2 separate regions of the Homo sapiens genome follow, and region 1 is linked to region 2. Evidence: fine-mapped expression QTL. Tissue or cell type: spleen. Region 2 holds a variant in brackets; the other region holds the start of a gene. All regions are shown on one strand. Distances are between the middles of the regions.

Evidence for each region. PIP is the estimated chance that this variant, and not a neighbour inherited with it, causes the effect.
Region 1: NPR3 starts here. The variant in region 2 is fine-mapped to the expression of NPR3 in spleen (GTEx, PIP above 0.99).

Annotation. Positions count from the first base shown.
Region 1 is chr5:32,706,908-32,714,997 of GRCh38, forward strand. It overlaps NPR3 (natriuretic peptide receptor 3), which reads left to right and starts at 4,414. Exons shown (of 8, transcript NM_001204375.2): 1 at 4,414-5,638. The coding sequence starts at 4,870. RefSeq lists an enhancer at 4,775-5,500 and a silencer at 5,376-5,670.
Region 2 is chr5:33,177,937-33,186,044 of GRCh38, forward strand. No RefSeq gene overlaps it. Among named protein-coding and RNA genes, the nearest start is that of LINC02160, 48 kb to the right of the region's middle. The variant CAGTT/C (reference allele first, on the strand shown) is at 4,714.

The DNA of each region.
Region 1 (8,090 bases), 470 kb before region 2:
TTTTGTTAAGAAATAAAGTTCATATTTTAAATTTTTATCTTTTAATTCCATTTTACATGAACTTTTTGAAGTCCCCATTCACACTCGTTTTTGTGAATATAATAATCTACATAAATTAACTTGTCTATAAATCAATGATATGAGAATTCTTCATATAGCTTGCAAATCTTATGCCAGTATTCAGGTTAAATCACTGACTAGCTATACGTTTTTCAGAAGTCTTTCTAATGTCACTTTGCCTCAGAACATCTTCAAAGAAGTGAAAAAAAGATGGTAGTTGATGGAAATCTAAGAGGATTATAATAAAGAAACAACTCTGTGTTTTCAAAAGAACCCCTTAAGGTCACATTTAGCTGCAGCTTCTGATGAGATTGAATTATAAATTTAATTAGAAAAATATAAAATTACTATTATTTATAGTGCTGGCAAATTAAAATAATAGATTTATATAATAGAAGAAAAAGAGTAAGTTAATAAAGTCCCTGCTAAGGAAAGTAAGAACCTAGAGGCAAAATTTTAATTTAATTTTTTGGCATCCATTGATTTTTTTTCCCCACTTCTTGAATAGTTCACTCTAAAACAGCAACTATATGTAAAGAATGAAATCTCAACACTGATTACATTACAGAAATGTTCTTGAATTATTTGTAATGTTCTTTCATCTTTTCTGCCTCTAGGGGGGAGTGTGTTTTCAACAATTCTGGCCTCAGAAGGTATTTTATTGTGGGCCACAGGCTTCACAGGGGTATTCTCGAATACAACTTTAGGGCTGGCTCAACAAGGGAGAAAAGGACCTCTGAAAATCTAGGTGGGTTCTTAGTTTAGAGGTTGCAGCCAGGATGCCAAGGGAGAAGAGTTGCAGAGACTGTTACAGTTGGTGGTGGAGAAAACTTACTTCTGATAGAATTTCTAATACACTTCAAAGAATCACATGTTAGTTTTCCTATATTAATGCTGTCTTTCCTGGTAGTGAGAAATAACATATAGACAGTAATTTCATTTCATAGAGCTGGAAAATAAACCGTTGAATACTTTATAGAAAACTTGCCACCTTATTGTAGTAGCTTGCCACCTTATTGTAGTAGCTTTAAAAAAAAAAAAAAAAAAAACAACCCAAACAACAAAACATGGTTTGTGGATATTAAGTAAAACATTTCTAAACCTCATAAAAAGTCTATTAGTTTCTGAAATATCCTGTTTAGAGCTAACATTGTCTTTCTTTCAAATGGCTAATTTTCTTTCATTTTGCAGCATTTTCCCATAACTTTCCTTTGGTTTCATTCAACAACTGAAGCCAGAAAGGAAGCACCTAGTAAAAAGGTTACCACTCTTTTGAATGTTAAAAAAATACTTATTTTTCCCCATTTCAGTGTTTTACAGAATTGAAAGAAATAATATTTAAAAATTGAGTCAAATAAATAAGTTATTTCTATTTTTTCCTTTTGATTCATTTTTGTGATTAAAGTGCTGCAAAAATTCTATTACAAAATGTTATTTTTGGGTTTATTGTGCTGTATTAGCCTCCAAACTTAGCTATATATATATATAAAAATTTGATATAAAGAATGTTATTACTTAGAGTAGAAATTAACTTTGTTCCTAACACTTTCACATGATGTAACTGGTGGTCCTTGGTTTACTTTGAATACAATCCCATTTAAAAATATTCTCAGGGGATGAAGAGGTATTTAAGTATATCACTTATACTGTTTGGGCCTTAATTCATCTAGAGAGTAAGGGGTGTCAGGCTGGGTGACTTAAGTCTTCTGGCCTGAAGATTTAGAACTACTTATTTACACAAACTTTCAGTTGGTTGCAAAAATTCTAACTTGATGGAAAGTAAACAAACCCGTAACTTTGAAATCCATACACTTACATTACTTGGTGGGTCTTCCCATAATCTTGTGACTCTTTTCATTTGAAAAGGTTTTTTAAAAACCCTAATTGTTGCTCACTGGAATTCTTAAGGGGTGTTTTGAGCTTCAGCAAAAGCATAACACTGGCTTTTTTTTTTTTTTTAATTCGTTCCGCTGCTTGGTTTGGGGTCTCTTCCCTTCCGCAGCTTGGTCTTGTTGCTGCTCTTGAGTGTGACAAACTGCAAGTCGAGAGCTCTTGTCCAAAAGCTGCGGAGAGGCTACGGGCACTCACCCTTACTTAAGCGCACTGCCCTGCTGTTGAACTGCAGGCGAGGCTAGGTAGCATCTGGGATGGGACAGGCGTTCACACCGGTGCCACTGAAACCCCAGACTCTCCGCATAAACCCACACCACACGCGGCAGAATCATATCGCCATTGGCTGGTGTTCCGCAGACACAGGGCATACCGCAGAGTAATAGGAAACACTGGTTCCTACCACTGTGGCCAGTGGTAGGACTGGGTCTCCGAGGCAGGACCTTTCTTGGAGTCTCGGAACCCCAGCACAGTGCCTGGCAACCAGTTTCGAAATCCATTAAGACCCTTGGAATTCATGATTTAGTTCTTGTTTTGTTGTTGTTCTTTTTCTTTTTTTTTTTTTTTAATCTGTGCTGCCATAAACGCCTGCCCTTCTGCAAATTCAGGAAAGATTTAATTGCTGTGGAGCACTAAATCTCAATTTCCAGTGTGTGTGGATTACCCTGTTTGTGGAATTAAATTTTATACAGATGTCTCTTTTGCTCCTGGTTAGTGGCTCTAATTAAATAAATGGAAATTCTCGCAGGAATTAGAAGCTCCTACTTAACAGTGAAGATTTCGGGATCACAGTGCATAATCTGAATATAAATGACCCAGAAGCTGAAACATTACCCATAATCACATTGACGGTTCCAGAAAGAGCGATAAGGAGAGTGCTGTTAAGGGAGGCGAGCGCTGACGCCAGAAGTTGCCATATCCCCAGAAACCCCAGTTTGCCTTTTCACCGTCGCAAGTGAGAACCAGAGCGCGTTAAAGGCCTCGGAGTAAAAAACGCAGCGTCTGGGACTGCGGCACCCGGGTTGAGTCGGGTGCAAGTTTCTGCCGAAAGAGGGCGTCGGTCTGAGACTAAAAGAAATTTGTGGACACGGACGCCTAGTCAAATGAAAGACCATTTTAACACATTTTCAATGTATTTAAATGTGCGGGACTTAATTGTCAGAATTCTCCCGCCCAGTGTAGCCCGTTCACATTGCAAATGACTTGGCTGCAGTAGGCACAGAAGGTCCAGTTCCATTTTGACCCGCCCCGCCGCGCGGCGGACTCCCGCGATGCTCCTCTGGTCACGGACTTCTCCAGAGCCGCTTCCCTCCGGTCTCCACCGCTGCTGTGGCTATGGCCAGTGGGAGGACTGGGTCTCCGAGGCAGGACCTTTCTTGGAGTCGCGGAACCCCAGCACAGTGCCTCGAGCGCTCCAGAGAAGGAGCGGTTGGATCTTTGAGCACTCAGGTTGGAGGGGAGCGTGTGTCGTACCCGGGGGACCTACCGGGAACGTTTTGGGAAAGACAGTCCCTTTATTTAGGTACCTGGTTTAGCAAACAAAGCCCCGAGGACGCTTTGGGGATGCTTTCCAAGCTTTGTGACACCTCCAGAAGTTGAACCATTCCCTCGCCTTTGGGAGCAACAAGTTTCACTTTCCTGCTCTCAGTGCGCTGACAGAGGGTCCGTGAGCTGGGACACTGTGACCTCGGCACCGCTGCGATTCCAGCGCAAACCTGCGTGGCCCAGGGGGAGGGGGCTGGCGCGGGGCTGAGGAAGGCGGGGTGTAGGTGACGCCCGGGCCAGCCGGGCACACCAGGTCCGCGATGGAGCCATCTGCACTGGGACCTTGGTCCTTGTTCCCTGACCTTGCGCCGAGGGACCAGGAAGGTCAGGTGCTCGCCCCGCGTCGGTGCTTCAGGAGGGAATGTGGCCAGAACGAGAAAGGTGAGAGCAAGCGGCACCTAAGGATTTTTGCACCGAAACCACAATTTCTAGAACCATCCCTTTCCCCCAGTCCTGGTTTTTTTTTTTTTTTGCACGGTGTGTGTGTGTATATGTGTGTGTGTGTGTGTGTGTGTATGTGTGCGTGCGCGCGCGCATTTCTCTACTTTAAAGCACGTTTCCTTTTTTGAAGCCAGGAGCTGGAGAGCGTGGAAAGGGAGAGGCGGTGATCGCACAGGCACGCGGCGTGGTGGGGGCTCTTGCCGGTGCAGACGTGGGCGATTTCAGCTTTAAGGAAAAGGCAGAGGGCCTGCGGGGAGTGGTGGTTAGGGACAGGGGCGCGATGGGTAGTGAAGGGGTGCAGGGAGGAGCCCTGATGTAAGAATGTTAATGAGAGACTCCCCCAGCCCAGCCCCCACATCTCCCCACCCCCACCCACCCCACCCGCTGGAAACACAAGCCCGGCCTCGGCGCGCCATGTGTGGTAACACGCTCAGCCGCTGCCACGCTATTTAAACGCGGGCTATGGATCCAGGAACCGGCGCGAATCAATGAGATCAAATGCGAGGGAGATGCACCGTCAATTACAAACACTTGGACAAGTCTAACTTTTTTTTTCTTCTACAAAAACGCTTTCAAAAGCAACCTTAGCAACGCCCAAATAAGAAGCCACCTCTAAGCAAAATAGTATATGTATAAACGGAGGGCGAATATATACAAGTATATATATATGTATATTACAGACGCACAGGTTTACACCCGGTGAACTTTTTCTTTTTCTTTTTCTTTTTTTTTTAAGAAAAACTAGTGACATTGCAGAGAAGGACGCTTCCTCTCTATCTTTTGGCGCATTAGTGAAGGGGGTATTCTATTTTGTTAAAGCGCCCAAGGGGGCGCAGGGACCTTGGAGAGAAGAGTGGGGAGGAAAGAGGAAGGGTGGGTGGGGGGCAGAGGGCGAGTCGGCGGCGGCGAGGGCAAGCTCTTTCTTGCGGCACGATGCCGTCTCTGCTGGTGCTCACTTTCTCCCCGTGCGTACTACTCGGCTGGGCGTTGCTGGCCGGCGGCACCGGTGGCGGTGGCGTTGGCGGCGGCGGCGGTGGCGCGGGCATAGGCGGCGGACGCCAGGAGAGAGAGGCGCTGCCGCCACAGAAGATCGAGGTGCTGGTGTTACTGCCCCAGGATGACTCGTACTTGTTTTCACTCACCCGGGTGCGGCCGGCCATCGAGTATGCTCTGCGCAGCGTGGAGGGCAACGGGACTGGGAGGCGGCTTCTGCCGCCGGGCACTCGCTTCCAGGTGGCTTACGAGGATTCAGACTGTGGGAACCGTGCGCTCTTCAGCTTGGTGGACCGCGTGGCGGCGGCGCGGGGCGCCAAGCCAGACCTTATCCTGGGGCCAGTGTGCGAGTATGCAGCAGCGCCAGTGGCCCGGCTTGCATCGCACTGGGACCTGCCCATGCTGTCGGCTGGGGCGCTGGCCGCTGGCTTCCAGCACAAGGACTCTGAGTACTCGCACCTCACGCGCGTGGCGCCCGCCTACGCCAAGATGGGCGAGATGATGCTCGCCCTGTTCCGCCACCACCACTGGAGCCGCGCTGCACTGGTCTACAGCGACGACAAGCTGGAGCGGAACTGCTACTTCACCCTCGAGGGGGTCCACGAGGTCTTCCAGGAGGAGGGTTTGCACACGTCCATCTACAGTTTCGACGAGACCAAAGACTTGGATCTGGAAGACATCGTGCGCAATATCCAGGCCAGTGAGAGAGGTGAGCAGGGGCGCGTCCCGGGCCCCGGGCCCTAACCCAACCGCTCTCCGCGGCTCTCCCTGCACACTCGTCCACTCTGCAGACCCCACTCCCCACTGCGGCGCTGAGGTCGGGTGCGCGCGGGCACTCGTTCAGGTATGCGCCGTGTGGCTGCGACAACCTTTGACGACCGCCCATCGCGGTGTACGTAGAGGGTCCCAGGGAGGTGAAGGGGTTGGAGGAGAGGGCGTCTGTAGCTCCTGCGTGCCCAGGTCCAACAGGTGCTGTCAAACACTTCGATGTTTTTTCTTCCCAGTTTCCACTTTGCCAGCGCCGGGCTGGTGATTAGGGGGCGCACTCCCAGTGCCTGGCTCCATCCAGGGTCTGAAGCATCCGAGGCGGAAAGAACTTGTTCCCCAGTCCTTTGCCAGCGTGCGCCCCCACTTAGTGCGGAAGCGTCCGCGGACGCCTCGCAGCGAGGCGTCGCCACTTAGCTCGCCCGCTCTTGGGGTTTCTCTGACTGTTGTTTCCACAGACCCCAGGTTTCTTTTAAAGGCTTGTTGACTCACTCTTCTCATTCCTTTCATTTCCCTTCCAGCCCCTTATAAACGAGCTTCTGTGGTTTCCACCAAAAATGCCCCTGTGTGTCTGAATTCTGGCGACACTCACTTCTCCCAGAGTGTTCTGCAACGCAGTTTCTAATGCGCCCAGAGCTAAGCTTTGCGGGAGTGCCTTTTGAAGAAACGAGCGCTGAACCTTCTTTCCACCTGTCCCCCAAGTTTTCTCCATGGGTCTTTGGGTGTTGGAATAAAACCCAAACTGGACAAAGAGCTCGAGGCTGAGGATGGTGGCTATGGCTTCGGGGAGCGGGGGGACGCGGACGTGTAATCGCCAGTGTGGCCCATTTTACGGTAGGGTAGAATCTGAGGGAAGGCGGACTGAGATGCCGGTATAGCGCCGATCCCTCCTCCCTCTAGTCAGGGATTAGGAGCACTGCGATGAGGGAATCCCGTCTCTGCTCCCCCTTGGCGCTCACGCGCCTGGAATGTGAGTGGTGCAATCCCGGCAAAGCTCCCCGAGACCCCAGTGCCACGCGGATGAGACCGAAGGGGAGCGGAGTTGAGCCAGGCGCCGGGCTAGTCCACAACTTGGCATGGCCGAGCACCTGGGCGCTGGTCGTAGGGGACAGCGCAACCTGAGGCCGAAGGCCCCAGGAACAGGTGAGAGTGGACAGAGAAGCCATCGATAATGGCGCTGCTGTCACCGCCTTGCCATCTTGGCCACCTCGGACTCACCCTTTAGAGCAAAGAGGCGAGAGGTGTTTGACAGTGGGAATGCATGGCCAAATTTTGAGCTCTGGAACTCCAGGCTGTCTGTGCCGAATTCCTACCAGCCAAGCAGGCGGGGCGCAGGCTTTGCCGATTATGAAAAAGGGCACGTGTGTCCAACGGCTGCGGACTTGCCACGCCTGCCACGCCTCGGCAAGGAACCCACATCTACACTCCCAAGTCCCAGTCGCCAGGTTACTGCAGCCTCCACGGGGGTGTCTGCGCCCCGGGCTGCTAAGGCTCCCGGAACCTGCTTCTCCAGTTCTCGGCTTTCGAGGGCTAGGCGCTAGAAGTCAGAGACTTCCCAAGGCCGGCTGGGACTGGGGGTGTGTCCCCCTATGGGCGAGATCCGCGGTTTGCTGACTCGTCCGTAATGTCACTACCCTGTAGATCCCAATGTCAGCGGCTGCCCCGGCGCACGTGGCCTGGGATACAAAACCAAGGGCATGTGTGAGACCAGAGGAGGGCAGATCGCGGCCCCGGGGCCCCTCGCCCTCACAGTGGTGGCTGAGGCCTGGGGCTGGGCGGACAGCAGTGCCCTGGTGGGCCTGGGGACTGGTGCGCCCCGGGCTTCTGAGGACTAGGGCTGCAGTCGGCTGTAAGAATTATTTTTTAATTCCAAAAGCCTCATAGACGTTCCGAAGTCTCTTTGCTTTTTTTTTTTTTTTCCAAGTTTGCATTGAGGGGTGAAAGTTTGCTTAACTGACCTGTATATTTTACAAGTGATAAGGTTAGGATTTTACAATTCTTACTCTAAAAAGTATTTCCAACAGTGACCTGGCAGATATTTAGAAATAGGAAACAAAACAGTTTCTCCTCTAATCGTCCTCCAATCGCCTCTAATCATCCTTCCACCCCGAAATTCCTTACACTCGAGAGAAAAAGTTACTTGATAACAAAGCTCTCTTAGGGGACCTTTTAAAAATACATTGAAGTAACACAGTTACTTTACCGTAAGCACTTAATGTATTAAATAGGGCTTCGGTACATGATTGCAGTGAAGTTTCTGGCTCAGTCACCGGCTGGGGGATCTTGGACTGCTATGAAACCTCTGTACCTCGAGCTCCTTAGGTAAAGTGGGGGTAGTCAGAGCACCCACGTCTTTGGGAAACTGTGAGGGTTACAGAAGCTAACCCAGGAATGCC
Region 2 (8,108 bases):
TAGAAACTACATCTGGATGGCAGGGATGCTCGATGGTATTAAATGGTATTGTTTCTAGGTTATCTTCGTGAACAAAGATAGAACACGCCCCCCCCCCACACACACACAGATCTGTTTCTATTTACATATATTTTATTATATGTTTTAAAGCCATGAGTTCATAATGGCATCTCAAATTCTAACGTAACATCAAAAACTTCATTCTAGTCTCCACTTTATGTATCCGTAACTTGCTTCTTTGATAATAAAAAAACTTGTCTCACATACTACTATGTATTACTCTATACTAGAATACACTTCAAATAGTTTCAGAATTGCTAATTTATACCCCTGTGATATGGTTTGGCTATGTCCCCACCCAAATCTCATCTTGAATTGTAATAATCCCCATGTGTCAAGGGCAGGGCCAGGTGGAGATAATTAAATCATGTGGGCATTTTCCCTCATACCATTCTCATGGTAGTGAATAAGTCTCACGAGATCTGATAGTTTTATAAATGAGAGTTCCCCTACACAAGCTCTCTTGCCTGCCACCATGTAAGACATGCTTTTGCTATGATTTGCTTTTCGCCATGATTGTGAGGCCTCCCCAGCCATCTGAAACTGTGAATCCATTAAACTTCTTTTTCTTTATAAATTACCCAGTCTCTGGTATGCCTTTATTAGCAGCATGACAACAGATTAGTACACCCTGTGAAAAATAAACCTACTAACTAGAATAAATGTTTGTTTAAAGTTCTTTTTGTCTGTAACCTGAGGATATATAATCAAAATACAATGTTCAAAGCTCTTTAAATGAGTCTGCTCCCTTCCCATTCAGTATAGTTATGTTATCCATTTGAAATACAATTAGCCTCATTTATCCTGTTAGTATTCCATCATCCCCCCACACCCTATTGATTTCATCCATTCCTTCATTTATTTTAGGATGTGCAACATCATCTTGGTACTAAATGTCAGAAGTATACAAATACGTATAGAGAACTATCTCTCCCCCGAACCCATGTATTCTACCTCATTCCTTCTCTCTCTCTTGCTCTCACTCTCATATTCCTAATCATCATTGGTGGCAACTAGCTCATTATTTTTTAGTTTTAGTTTATGTTCCTTGTGTTTTTCTCTGTACAAATAAGCAAATATGTATACATTTCTATTTCCCTTTTCCTTAAATAAAAATTATAGGTGTTAGATGCTCTTTTGCATTTTGCTTTCTAAAAATTCATAAAACAGTATACCACAAGTTATTCTATATCAGAATAGAGGTCTTCCTTATTCTTTTTAAGCTGTATAGTACTACATTGGATGAACAGTCTCTAATTTGCTCAACTTCTCTCCTACATAAAGGCATTTAGGTTATTTCCAATATGTTGCAATTACAAAAAAATGCTGTAGTAAACAACTTTATGCGTGCATTTTTTTTTGAATTGTTGAATGAAAATCTTCAGAATAAATTCCTAGAAAAGGTGTCTGCATTGAAAGGTAAATGTCTAAATACTTTTACTAGATACTGCCAAATTCCCTCTCCAAAGGCTGTACCAATTGGCATGTTTGAGGTTGTCAGTATGAGAGTGCCAGATTACATATAACCTCGCCAACAAATGTGTTGCCATACTTTTTAGTTTTTTCCAATCTGAGAGATGAAAAATATATTTCTGTAGTTTCAATTTGCACTTCTATATTATCAGTGAGGCTGAATAACTTTTCAAATACTTAAGGGTCAATTTTATATCTCTTTTTGTAAATTGTTCATATCTTTTCTACCAAGCTTTTGGTGTTTCTTCTCAATTTTAATAGTTCTTTATACATTAGGGATACTAGCCCTTTATTTGGCTGTATATTGCAAATAATTTTTTTCAGTTGTCTGTTACCTTCTTATTTATCAGTTTTTAATGATCCTTTAATTCTCACATATAAAATATACTACCAAGAGCTTATTTCTCTTTCCTATTTACCTTTACCTCTCTTTTATCCTCTCTCTTTTGTTTGCATCATTACATTGTCAGAACATGTAATATTTCTACATTATACTTATATCTTTGTACCCATATTTCTTTTAATCTCATATCTATGATAAAATCTAGTAGATGTTTACCATATACCCCATTTCTGAAGTTTTCCCAGTTGTCCCTTTATTTAGAAAAAAAAACCATCCCTAGTAGACTTTACCTATTGTTCTAAGATCTGAATAAAGAATCCCCAATGCAAAATTTCTTCCTAGTTCCACACTCCCCACTCTGCACAGTTGCTCTATTGCTGTCTTACTTTGTATGTTGTTTTGGAGAAGTCTGACTCCAGTCTATGTTTTCCTCCTTGTAAATCATTTAATATTTTTGGTAGGAGGGCTTAAGAAAATTATTTTTTAGATTTCAAAATCTAATAGTTTTACTAGGATGTGCCTCAAAGTTCACCATTCCAGGTTGATTTTTCCAGCTACCCACTGAGCTCTTACTATATGCACATACAGGTCTTCATTTATTTCTGGAAAGTGTTCTCGAATTAAAGTTTTAAATATTAGCCCTGTTCTATTGTTTTCTTTTTCTGCTTCAGGGACTATAGTTTTTTTTATTATTATTATTTCGATAGTTTTTGGGGGACTGGTGGTTTTTGGTTACATGGATAAGTTCTTTAGTGATGATTTCTGACATGCTAGTGTACCCACAAAGACTATAATTAATATGTCTTCTTCTTTGCCTGTCTTCCATTTCAGCCACTTCTTTTCTGTTCCATTTTACTTTTCTGTGTGTCACTTTTCAATATCTTTTATGTTTTCCTACTTCAATATACCATAAAATTTTCATTTCAGTCTGTCCTCCCTTAGGCACTCTTTAATTTAGTCTTCATATTTATGATAATTTTCTCCTTTTCCTAATTTCTTTCCTGAGTTTAGTCAATCTCTTTTGATTTCTATAGCTTTTTGTCCACTTTGCCTTTAATGTTTTCATATCAACAAATGCTTAAGAATTCTAAATCAAGTTTGGAGCTTTTTATTACATTTTTCTTCTGCTTCGTGATGCTTTCTGAAGACAAATTTTTATCGGATGAAAATTTTGATTTTGATTTTGTTATAGTAGATAGCAGATTTGTATAGATTTATTCACTTTTGTCTAATCCATTTCGTAGATGTGTGGTGGCTTACAAAATTTTTAGTTCAATGGTGCCCTCTTCTGTCAGTGTAGCAGAGTCTAGTTTCTTTAATGGATATTTTGGGGATGGGGGAAGGGCCCAGGAAGGTGGGATTTTTTTTTTTTATGTGGAAATACCATATCACTAAGTAAAGTATTTCTATGTTTATCATTTTTACATAGGTTTTCATTCTATGACTGCATCTTAATGAATTTATTCCGTCCCTAATGATGAAAATCTAAATCGAACACATTGTCAAATTAATCTCCATAGAAACTGTACTAATATATACTCCTACTAGCAATGTGTAAAAAGGTCTACTTCCTCACAGCCTCTGATATGCTATATTGGCTAACATATCTAACATTTTACTCCACAATTTTACAGGCCTGTGAAAAATGGCATTACAGAGTAGTTTTATTTTATATTCATATTATGAGTGAGTTGAGCATTTTTCGTATGTTTAGGGACCATTTTCCTAAATGGTTCTATATTTTCACATCCTCTACCCTAATCTGGTACATTTCTAAATAACTCTTTGAACCTTGAATAGTTTCTGTAATGAACACAGTGCTGGCCCTTGTCTACAAAAGCTGCATTTTAAGAAGTAGAACAATTAGACAAGACTGAACACCTGACCTAGAGGAAGAAAAATCATAGGCTGAACTGATCCAAGCAGATTTCCCTTACCCTTAAATTTGAACTAATCCAAAACTGAGTCACTTAAGCTCATAAGTTCATAAGCTCTTAAGATAAAATATCCTGTAGATTTGGGATTTCAGTTTCCATTGGAGCTAGGACCACCGTAAGCCAAAGTAATCAGCTGGCTGAAGCTACGAGTAAAATGGGAAACAGAATGCTGATTGGCAAGCAGGAAAAAATGGGAAGGACACTCAGTGAAAAATAGAAATCAGAGATGGTATGACTCTGGAAGACGTGAGGAAGAGGCTTAGCTTGCTTCAGTGTGATGGGAATTTCTTTTTATTGTCTTTGATATTGCCTGTTGTAGCCTTTTTTAAAAAAAATTACTTTTTTCTTTGAATTAGTTTGTGTGAATTATTTTTTCCTTGATTAGAATGCCTTTCTTATGGAAAACACTAGTTTTGCTCTCTGTTGCTTCAGGGGTACAAATAAAGCCAATAGATGAAATATACAACGAATCAAAGTCTAACTTGATTATTCAACTTATGGAATGAATTCTCTCAGGAAGGTGAGTGCTTCCTCTTATTGGAACCATTCCAACACAGACTAGGCAATTACTAGGCAGCAATGTCAGAGAAAGGATACCAGTATCAAACGAGAGATTGAATTAGATGCTGTTTAAGCTTTATTTCACAACTGAAATTTTAAGAGTCTATGTATGGTCCTTTTATCTATTCAATGTTTGCTTATTGAATGAATTAAAGACTCTAAATCAAAAATACTTTTATTAAAATAAAATATATTTTGCTACTGGAAGGAATAATTCTTCCAAAACATCTAGAAAACAATTTTCTAGCTAGTGAAAAGGAAATCAGCCTGTAATATCTGGAACTAGTCTGACATGTGTGGCTGGGCTTCACTGTTGTTAAGAAGCTGGCCTTGTACTCA[CAGTT/C]AGGCCATGTTATTTCCCTGTAGGACATAAACAATTTCACATGACACCAATATCAGAAAAGGTCACTCTGAGACCATGATAAAGTGAGACAAAACAACGTCAGTTTATAATTTTATCTTAGCATAGACAAAATCAAGGTCATTATGTCCCCCACGAAATACCCAACCTCCCTATCTCCTGGCTAATATGAGTGACTGCTGTTCCTTTACAAAAAAATAGCTTTATCCTCTTTCTTGTCTGCCCTCTCTGTTCACTGAGATACCCAGTCACGGAATTGTCCCCACTTTTTGAGAGTACCCAATCTAGAGCAAATCTCTGCTTTCTTGGACCCTCCCAAAAGTCACCCCACCAATGCTCAAATGCTATTATAGGTTCTTTCCAGCACCCTTGTATTGGTCTGCTCAGGCTGCCATATAAAATGCCATAGAATGGGTGACTTAAACAGTAGAATTTATTTTCTTACAGTTCTGGAGCCTGGAAGTCTGAGGTCAGGGTGCTACCGTGGTCTGTTTGTGGTGAGGGGTGACTTCCTGACTTGTAGATGGCTGCTGCCTTCTCGTTGTGTCCACATATGGCAGGGGTGGGAGGAAAAGGAAACTCCCACCATATCTCTTCTTATAACGGCACTAATCCCATCATGATGGCCACATCTTCATGACTTCATCCAAGTCTAATTACCTCCCAAAGGCCCCGTCTCTAAATACAATTACATCAAGATCAGGGCTTCAACATATGAATTTTGGGGGGACACAAATATTCACTCATAACAACACTATTACTGAGATGTCCCACGATTCCATGGGATTTATTCTCTTTCATTTTATCAAATAATAAATCATCAACTTGTTCAACTAAAAGTGTGTTTCTGGTGTTCCTTAACCAAAGAGCATTTTCATTAGAAAATGCTGCCTTTTGCAAAAGTTACTGCCATGTTGTTTCATTAAGTTTAGAACACTGGGCAGGTGGAAAGTGTTTAACAGATAGTAGGTATTCCTTGAAAGAAAATTAAACGAGGGTGTTGAGAAAATTGCTTAAACTGTACTGCTAAGAACAAAGCCCTGATATTTGCTTTTTATCTGCTTTTCTCCATTCATATCACACTACAAACAAGATGGGTTTTTGGAGGATGAAGTTGTCATTTAATGAATAAAACTGACTATTTAATGTGACTGCAAATTGTATCAACAGATTCAAGCTGGTAGCGGCTTAGTTCATACTGACATCATTCAATCTGCTAATATTTGTCCAGAATACTTAGGTTAATACACTCTCTGTGGTTCTGCATTTAGGGACTATTATATCATTTAAATATATTAATAGTTCTCCAAATGTCCTCAGGCAATGATAGTGGAATGCAAAATTCTCAATCTGATGCAAGCATAATTTACGGATTTTCCTTAATACTCATCTTTTTTACCATGGGTTTATATCAAAATACTAACAGAATAATCTCAGGCAGGCGGAGTAAATATAGTCAGGCCACAAACATTCCTTTCAGCCAAAGGTGCCAAAATTTCCAAAGTATGCCCTCTCCCCTTGGGCAGATAGCATCCTCAGTCTTCAGACACAACTGTCTAAAAACTGACCCCCTATAAGATTCATTCAAAATTGCATAATAACTTTTAGGCCCAGAGCTTCTAACAACAAGTGAAATCCAAGACGCAAAGAATTTAAATTACTTTGTACTGGTTAACTGAAAAAAAGCTGGCTTACTTACACGTGAAACAGATACCACACCTACGGTTCAGTTTTAATGGAACTAGAGCTCCTGGTGCTTTATACATCTTTCTCTTTTAATCAGTAATGTTGTAAATTACATAAACATCTTTCACAGCTTAAGGCTTAAAGCCTTTTATCTAAATGTAAACACTGGGCTAGGTGGGTAGAACCCCCCACCTAGCAGAATACCACAAATACAGAAAGTGCTTCTAGATAATACAGGGGAGGGGTACCTTATCAGGGCTACTCACACTTAAATATGCATAGGAATCACATGATCTTGTGAAAATGCACATTCAGTGGGTCTGTGGTGGTATTTGATAGTCTGTATTTCCAACAAGCTCCCAGGAGCTGCCCATGTTCATGCTGCTGGCCCATAATTAATTATTATTCTTTCTTTGATAGGAAAGCTACAAGTCTGCTATTTTGTAGAAATAAAAATATCCCTTTGAGATTTCCTTCCTGCTTTCTCTTTTTCATCTACTCCATTCCCTGGGTAAGTTCATTCATATAGTATAAAACACAGTTTAGGTAACCGAAACAATCGTACCTCCTAGAATGTGTCAAATGTTAAACAAACAAAAACCAACCAAAACCAGTACACTTTGCATGACAAGCAAAGTCAAATGCTTCTCATTAATTTCCTCTGATCATCACTAAAATTAAAAACAACTTGTCTGATGTTTAAAATTTAGACACAAACTTACTACAAAAGGAAAAAGAATCTTACAAATATTGTAGAACAAAACGATTACTAAATTGTGTTCAACTTAACTCTGCCATTATTATATAATTATTATATATTATTACTACCTTCTGTAACAATTACTAATGCTATTTTTTCCCTTTATCACAAAGAAAAATCAAAAAGAAATTATGATCATTTGTTGCACACGTTAAAAAGTCCTTTCACAATAATCGTCATTCTTCAGGCAGGAACAGTTAATATTTGTGCTCATTCTTCAACCCAATTAAAGCCCTGAAATCAATAATGGGTTGATTATTAGGGAAAAAGACAAAGAAGTATCCATGGCTACATGGGATTCAAAACCTAAATATATGAAGCCTGTACAATGAACTGAAATTATTAAAATTCAATTATGCCAAACAATTGGTTTAATTAATCCTTATTCTCCTTGAATTGATTTAATATGGAAAGTTATGATCTATTTTAATATAGTCCTTCTAAAATGGAATTTGACCATTTCATCTAAGGTGTCTAATACTTTAATATACAGTTCTTCAATTATGCCTTTGTAATCTTCTTTATTTCTCTAGGGTTAGTAGTTTTGTCCCCCTTTTCATTTCTGATTCTAGTCATTTGAGTCCTTTTTTTGTTCTTGGTTAGTTGAGCTAAAGGTTTGTCAATTTCATTAGTCATTTCAGGGAACCAGCTTTTGGTTTCATTATTTTTCTCTGTTTTTCTATTCTACATCTCATTAATTTCCTTTCTAATATTTATTTCCTTGCTTCTGCTAGTTTTAGGTTTAGTTTACTCTCCTTTTCCCAATGTCAATACAGAAGGGTAGGATATATTTTAATATAGTCATTTGTAGTATAAATTTACCTCTAAGTACTGCTTTTACTCTATCATGTAATATTCTTTTTTTTTTTTTTTTTTTTTGAGACAGAGTTTTGCTCTTGTTGCTAAGCTGGAGTGTAATGGCATGGC